Linked DNA regions of Homo sapiens. The protein of the gene in region 1 purifies or fractionates together with the protein of each later gene. This does not show direct contact. Each region holds a gene or a part of one and is shown on either strand. Other genes may lie near its edges.

The links.
Region 2: the proteins of PALD1 (region 1) and MACIR purify together in Homo sapiens (affinity purification with mass spectrometry; one large-scale study listed by BioGRID and IntAct). This does not show direct contact.

What each region holds. Positions count from the first base shown.
Region 1 is NC_000010.11:70,530,729-70,534,546, reverse strand, and holds part of PALD1 (paladin), read right to left. Parts: intron 3,258-3,818; coding exon 3,093-3,257; intron 1,927-3,092; coding exon 1,766-1,926; intron 1,553-1,765; coding exon 1,477-1,552; intron 626-1,476; coding exon 474-625; intron 123-473; coding exon 23-122; intron 1-22.
Region 2 is NC_000005.10:103,275,724-103,279,439, reverse strand, and holds the end of MACIR (macrophage immunometabolism regulator), read right to left. Parts: intron 3,544-3,716; 5' UTR 3,521-3,543; coding exon 2,900-3,520; 3' UTR 780-2,899; downstream 1-779. UniProt on the Homo sapiens protein: Regulates the macrophage function, by enhancing the resolution of inflammation and wound repair functions mediated by M2 macrophages. The regulation of macrophage function is, due at least in part, to its ability to inhibit glycolysis.

The DNA.
Region 1 (3,818 bases):
CCCTTTGCTGTCCCTCACTCACCTCTTCCACCATCCTCCTTCCCTGGGGCACCATGCGGAGAAAGCTCTGGATCACCTGGAACTGCTCCATAGGCAGGGGCTTGGCCTGCGTGGGGGCAGCCCTGTCGAGGCAGGGTCAGTACATTAGCAGGCTCTTCCAAAGGTCTCACACGGCCACCCGCCTGCTGTCTCCACTCATATGGCCGCTGGGGGACACCAGACTACAGGTTCCTTCTGAATCACATTGTGGGAAGCAGGGGACATTTCCCCAACTAGGGAAACTGAGGCCCAGAAAGGTCAGGTGACTTTCTCCAGGTCTCCCAGCAAGTCTCGTGGCAAACCAGGAAATGAACCCCAGATGCCAAATTTCCAGCTCTGGCTCTGGGCTCCTAGACATGTCCCCACACTGTGGGGCAGCCTGTCCCCTCCTCGGCCCCACAGCCCTTCAGGACGCTGGGCCCCGGGCCACTCACTCTGGCTGGGAGGTGGTCCCACTGCGGTGAAGCAGGATGAGGGTGCCCAGGACCATGCCCAGGTTGGTCCTGCCCACGCCCATCTGGCAGCTGAAGACGAGGGCTGGGGGAGGCCCGTGGGCATCACGGAGCTGCAGCAGGCTGGGGGTCTCCTGGGAAAGACCATGAGGATCAGGCCCCAGTGAGACCAGGAAACCCTGGGCTGAGGCCTGAGCAGGGAGAAAAGCATGACATCAGCCCACCCTGCCCCACAGTCTGCAGCAAAGTGGGCTCCAATAGGTGTCTTGGCCTCTTCTGCCAAAGCCACAGCCTGATCAGCTCCACCTGCTCCCTCCCCAGGCCTTGGAGGAGCTCAAAGAACTGGAAGTGAGAGCGACTCAGAGGGCACCAGGCCAGTATTAACACCTTCTGCAAGATGCCAGTGAAATAAGATAATGCCCTGAAGGGGGCTGGAGAGAAACTCCGCCAGGACTCAGGAAATGTCAGCTGAACAGTCTATAGGGCAAGAGTCGTTAGCTCCACTAAAGAAAGGAGGAACTGAGGTCTAGAGAGGTGAGGTGATTAGTCCGGGACCACACAGCAAGTTGGCAGCCCAGCCACGGCCAGCAGCTGGGCCAGCGGTCAGTGATGGACTCTGCCATAAGAGAATGCACAAACACACACCTACATACAGGTACACACACACAAACACATACACACACAGACACATACACACACAGAAACACATGTATCCCCACACAGAGACACACAGACAGGAACACACAGACACACAGAGAGACACATAAACATGTACACACACTCCCCACAGACACACACAAAGGCGCTGACACACACAGACATATACAGAGACAGACACCAACACACGTCCACCCTAACATGCTCACATACACAACACAGAATGAAGCCTTCCTCTGAGGAAGGCGAGAGGCTGTGCCCACCCTGAGCACCTCCATGGGGACGACTCTCAAGACTCCTCCCCCATGCGCGCCCGTGCCCCAGTTACCCGGAGAACACTGACAAAGGCGTCCAACTGGGCCTCCAGGGGACTCCCTTGCTCGGGCAGGGGCAGGCGGTGGTACCTGCCAGGTGAGGGAGAGCAGCCATCAGGCAGGCACCCACTCTGGGAATCCCCCTCACCCCCTATTCCCGGGCACTGTTTGGAAATGGGCCCCACTGTGGGAGACATGGGTGTGGGGGACTCCGCCCAACCTGCAGATGGTGAAACTGAGGCTGCAGCTGGAGAGCAGGACCTGGAGCACCCATGGCCAGGGCTGGGGGTGGCCCTGTGGTACCTGTAGGTGGGCTGCAGGAAGAGGGGCCGCTTGTACACCTCCTCCGTCACATGCAAGTCGTCCTCACCATGGATGGCCACAGCATGGGGCTCCCCCCACAGGTCCTCGGTGTTATGGTACACATGGTATGTGTTCTCGCTCAGCTGGGCAAAGTCGTGGATCTAGAGGGAGGTGTGGGGGTCAGAGGGCCATGGCCTGAACTTCAAGACCCTCCCTGAGTGTCCTGGCTGAGCTCTGGAGTGACCAGACCATGCAGAGGCCACAGGCAGGCTTCTGCCCCCCATGAGGGAACTACACAGCCAGAAGTGCTCTCTATGCCATTCCTGGGAGTTCTGAAGGAATCGGGGTGCCTACACAGGGGCAAGGCAGGAGGGCTCTGCCCAGTGGGTGCAGGAATTCACAAAGCCACCAGTGCCAGGACGGGGGAGGTGTGGTCAGCTGGGAGCTGGAGCCGAGGGGAGCAGAGCACACAGGAGGCCTGGAGGGGATGGGAGAGGCAAAGAGCTGGGCGCCGGCATGGCCTCGGTTCCTGACCTGGAAGTTTCTGGGGACACTGGGACCCCACACTCTATTCACACACCTTCATGGTATGTCAGCTGCCTCAGAGGCCTCCACAAGCCTCTGTGTTATGGAGGAGGAGGAGGACAGAGGATACTGAAACAGGCCCACAGACCCACTGAGGGAACTGACTCAGAGGCTCGTGGCTCTCAAAGCGTTGAACTGCAGCCTTGGTCCTTCTGGTCTAGCGCTCTTTTCACTCACCTAGAACCCTTTCTTTTTCTTTTTCTTTTTTTTTTTTTAGAAAGAGTTTCACTCTGTAGCCCAGGCTGGAGTGCAGTAGTGTGATCTCGGCTCACTGCAACCTCCGCCTCCCAGGTTCAAGCAATTCTCCTGCCTCAGCCTCCCGAGTAGCTAGGATTATAGGCATGCGCAAGCACGTCCAGCTAATTTTTTGTATTTTTAGTAGAGACACAGTTTCACCACGTTGGTCAGGCTGGTCTTGAACTCCTGCCCACCTCGGCCTCCCAAAGTGCTGGAATTACAGGTATAAGCCACTGCACCCGGCCCACCAGACCCCTTTCTAAATAAGGACATTGAGCATCAAGGAGACAAGCAGGGTGGGAAAGGGGCAGAGGCAAAGAGAGCTAGAATAGGAAGTCCTTCCTCTGGCTGCCCGTGAGTCAGCCTTGCAGCCAGCCACTCACCCAAGCAGGGCACAACAGTGGGGGAACACGGGCCAGTAAGAGCAGGTGAGCTGGCCCCAAAAAGAGCATCTGCAAAGCTGGGCTGTGGGCTGGGGTCTCCCGCACACCGCACTGGTCCTCACCTCTTTCCGGATGGCCAGCTCCAGGCTCTCCACCCGGACCCCGGGTCCAAGGCCCTGGAGGTTCTCATGAAGGTTCTGCTTGTCTCGAGGTGTGTAGGACACAAAGTCCTCATCTGCACGCAGGAAAAGCACAGGTTCCTCCCGCACACAGAAGATGACACACTCCTGCCAGGAGCCCGAGGGGGAAGGAAGCCATCATCATGATCCCGCACAGACACCTGCACCACTGCCCCACCTCAGGGCCTCTGCCCAAGCTGTTCCTTCCTCCTGCACCCCACACCATCCCTGCAACCTGAATCCTACCCAAGAAACAAAGCTCAGTCCAAATGCTACCTCCCTGTGACCCTCCCAGTCAGCAGTGACCCCTGCCTCCTGTCAGGGTCAAGAGTCCTTCATATGAATCTCTTGGCGTTAATTCCTGCTTTGTACTATCAATGAATGCATCTTTTCCCCCTTAATGGACCACAGGTTCCTCGTAGGCAAAATCATGTCCTGGTCATTTTCATGTACCCATAATTCCTAGCATGGTGTCCTAGCATGGTGTCCTGGATAAATCAGGTGTTTGATGAACATCAGCTGAAGAAATGAATGCCCCATGACCACGCAATCATTCATTCACTGAGCACCATACAGGCAGAGGGAAATGTGTGGGCAGATGGTCCCCTTGAGGAACTTATCATCAAGATGGGAAGATGGGACCTGCACACAGCCCACACCCCCACCCCA
Region 2 (3,716 bases), on another chromosome or scaffold:
TGATCACAGATGGGCATTATAGGGCATAAGAAGCAATGGACAGGACATGATGGCTCTGGAACAATAGCCCAGCTGGGCTGGAGTCCAGAAGATCTGGGGGTTCTGAACTGGTTTTTACATGTTAAATCCATCCCCATAGAGCCTCTTCTTCCATGACTACTGACTATGGGAGCCCTGCACCCAGAGGTGTAAAATGCAACCAAATGGAAGTCAGAAGAGCAAAAGAAGCTCACCTCAGATTGAGGCAAGGAATGAAATTTTACTGCAACTTTATGCATCATCTGAGCTTCAAACAAACGGTACTTTTGCAAAAGAAGAAAAAAATTAAAGTTATATAGTGCTGCAATGTTTAAGGGCAAGAACAGTAAGATAATATCATCAGGTATATTCTGGCCAAGTGTGCCCCATTTAGTGTGGAATATTAAATTGAATAAAAAATGAAAAAGTTAAAAAATAGAAACCATGTCAAAAGGGATTGTTTTTCAACTAAAAGAGATCCAGCCTACCCTTTTTTTAAAAAAATTGGTTCTTACCTACCATAGGCTACAATTCCATGGGGTGCAGAGAAAGTAAGACTGAACTAATAAAGGGGTTCTGCAAACACATTGTGAAAATTACTGGCCTAGAGTTTTGAAACTTTCTTTCTAGAAAACCAAATTTAAAATTATATATCTTTACTAATCAAAAAAGAGTAAGTATGCCATATCTTATACTATTAACCCCCCTATTTTTGCCACAGAGTTTCACCTGTCTTTCAGGAAAAAACAAAACAAAACAAAAAAAGCTACAAATTTTTATTTAGCTATTATTAAGGAACGTAGGCACACGGACAGAACAGGTCTCATAGGTAACCAGTTGTGTTTCCTAATAGGGTGAATACATATCATTGCCATGAATACATCTTTTATCATAAAATGCCAATGAGCATCAAAAGTAAATGGTTTGATTGTTGTTGTCACTGTTTTGTTTAAGAAAAATAGGGCCTTAAAATAAGTGCTTCAGTGGAATTCTTGAACAGTAAGTAGCCTGTTGATAGTGGACCTAGTTTAAAGCACCACACAACAATGTGTGTTTACATCACCCCTTTATTTCATAGTTAGAAATAATACAGTTCCACAGGGTAAATTGTCAATAAATAATGGTGTTTAATCATTAAACATAAAAATCCCACTCTTTGGCATCTGACAGGATTCTATTTCTTGTCAAACTAATGACTGTATAGATATAGCTAATCTTAGTGATCATTCGTCAATACAATATGTTACAAAGGTGCAATTTACTTTAAAATATACAACAGCGAAACATTTCCAGCCCAACGAGAAATCTGATCAACTTAGTAAGATATGGGCCAACTTCCCCAAGGCTCTTTCACGTAGTTTGCCTTAATGAAAGTGTAATAAACGTTGATTAAGAGTTCCTAGGGTTTTCTAATACTTACTTTGCTCTAAATAGAGTTTGCCATTCATTCTGGCTAAAGAAAAATCACAATTGCACCAGGAATGACCCACTCATTAATTAAAAGGTGTTCTTATTTTATAAGCAAGATTGCTAATACCTAAGAAACTCACAGACCCCAAAATAAAAAGCAGTTCTGTGCTGCCAGAAATCCCAATTCAGTAATAAATTGCACCTTTAAGAGTCAAAAATGAGGGAAAAAAGAAATGGAACGTTTACAAAAGGTAAGTTACATACATTTTTTTTTCAAAATATATTCAAGAATAGTTGAGCTGTATTTGTTACTAAACCCAGGGCATTATTTCTTTAGCAACAAATTAAACCAGTGCAATTGACATAAATTGTTAAGTAATCCAGGATTAACCCATTAAAACAGTAGAAGCACGTTAGGCTCCTACACTAATCCTAGAAACTGGAATTTCAGTGAGTGCTTGTGTTACACAGAACTAAAACTGCAATGACCTGATGCCATGCTGAATGGTATCACTTCATACTTAGTTTAATCATTCAATAGTACAAATCATGAGTTCCTCTATTAAACTATTATTCACTTACAGAAAATTCAGATGCAAACAGTATTATGCCTATAATCCACAATTAAAAGAATCCTTTCCCATTTAAAGTTCCAGGTGAATTTTAAGTTAGAAAATAAGCACTAAGGAGAGTTTTTTCAACTTATGAAAACGTCATATTGGAAACTTTCTGGAAAAGTTTCCCCCGCCCACCCATTGTAAAATAAATACTTTGTATCCCAAATTTAATTTTATTAAGACACACTTTAATAACGCTATAAAGAAATATTTTACAGCCATAGAGATCAATAACTTTCCATGCGGAAATAAAAAATTCATTGCTCAATAACATTATTGAGGCAAGTGAAGAAAGATTACTCTCTTGTCAATCTGAAATGTTAATTTTTTCAGTGCAAAACCAGTTATAAAATATTTAAACTCAATATTTAAAAATAAAAAGTGGTCCAATTCAGCAATGTTCAAGTTCTAAATTTCATAAAACAAATCATTACATACATTTTATAGTAAAATACAGAGATTCAAGAAGTACTTGAGTACTGAAGATATAAATTTCTAATGAATCATATCAAGTCAGCAACAACCAAGCAGGTAACATTCCCAATTTGAGTGTCAGAATCATAAAGATGAAATTACTGTACCAAAGCCTTTTTTTCCTAGCTAAAAAGCTATACAAACTAACAGTCAACATTCTGTTTTCTTTGCAGTTGCGTGCTCTAGAATGATATCCCCCCCCCAAGTACCTGTGATTTCATTCCTGTATTCAAATTTGACCCAAACAATTTTTATGTTCCAGGAACACTTAGCTGATATAACCATCTATAGTGTGAAGAGTCATGTACAGAGTACAGCAGTGGGTTTTTTCTAGCCAAGCGTAGGCTGACCTAAATTGGTTTAAGCTCTCTCCAAGTCATTCATGTATTATTCCTAGCAAACACACGGTCCCCTCGGAGGGTTAGGTGTTGAAGCTGGTACTGTAGCACTTCTGTATCAGCTGGCTCCTTGATCATTTTATCTAGATTGAGGTAGTCCAGAGATTTGGAGTGAGCCCTCTTACCTTTAAGAAGACAAAGAGGCAGAGGCCCATGGAGGGCCTTGTAAGGTTCATAAGGTAAAGATTTAGTGCACTTGTCTCCTGAGCTTGGCATCCGCCTTCGCCTCCTGCCATTGACAGCTGGAATCTCGTATGGCTGGTAGTACCTACTTCTGGTTTTATACAAACGAGAGGAACGGGCAAGTCCTGCATCTAGCTGTTTGGAGCGTAAGGATGGCATGGCTTCTGCTTTGCTCTCTTCACCTCCTGTGCACTTCTGAGCTAACTTCAGGAGTTCCTCGCCAGTCGTGAAGCCAACCAAATAGTTAGAGTCCATGTGTAGGATCTGGTAGCCTGACACGGTCCTCCGCATCGGGGAGCAGGGTGTGCTGGAGCAGCGGGGCTTCTCTGCCTCCGCCTTTCCCGGGGAGTTGGCCTCAGCCCCAGGGAAGGGCAAGGTGGTCAGGGTACTTCTAGACTCTCCATTAATATCGACTTCCATTTTAAGCACCAGTCTGCACAATCCTAAAAGTAAACAGACTTAGATTAGAAGAATATAATGCACAGAGACTTGGGCCAGGCCAGGTCCTTTTAGAAGGCTCAGGGAGCATGAAGTAACACTTGCCTGAAAGACAGTCAATGTACCACTGACATGTAACTATGTCTACTAAACGTTTCAGAGCGGGCATGAAATGACA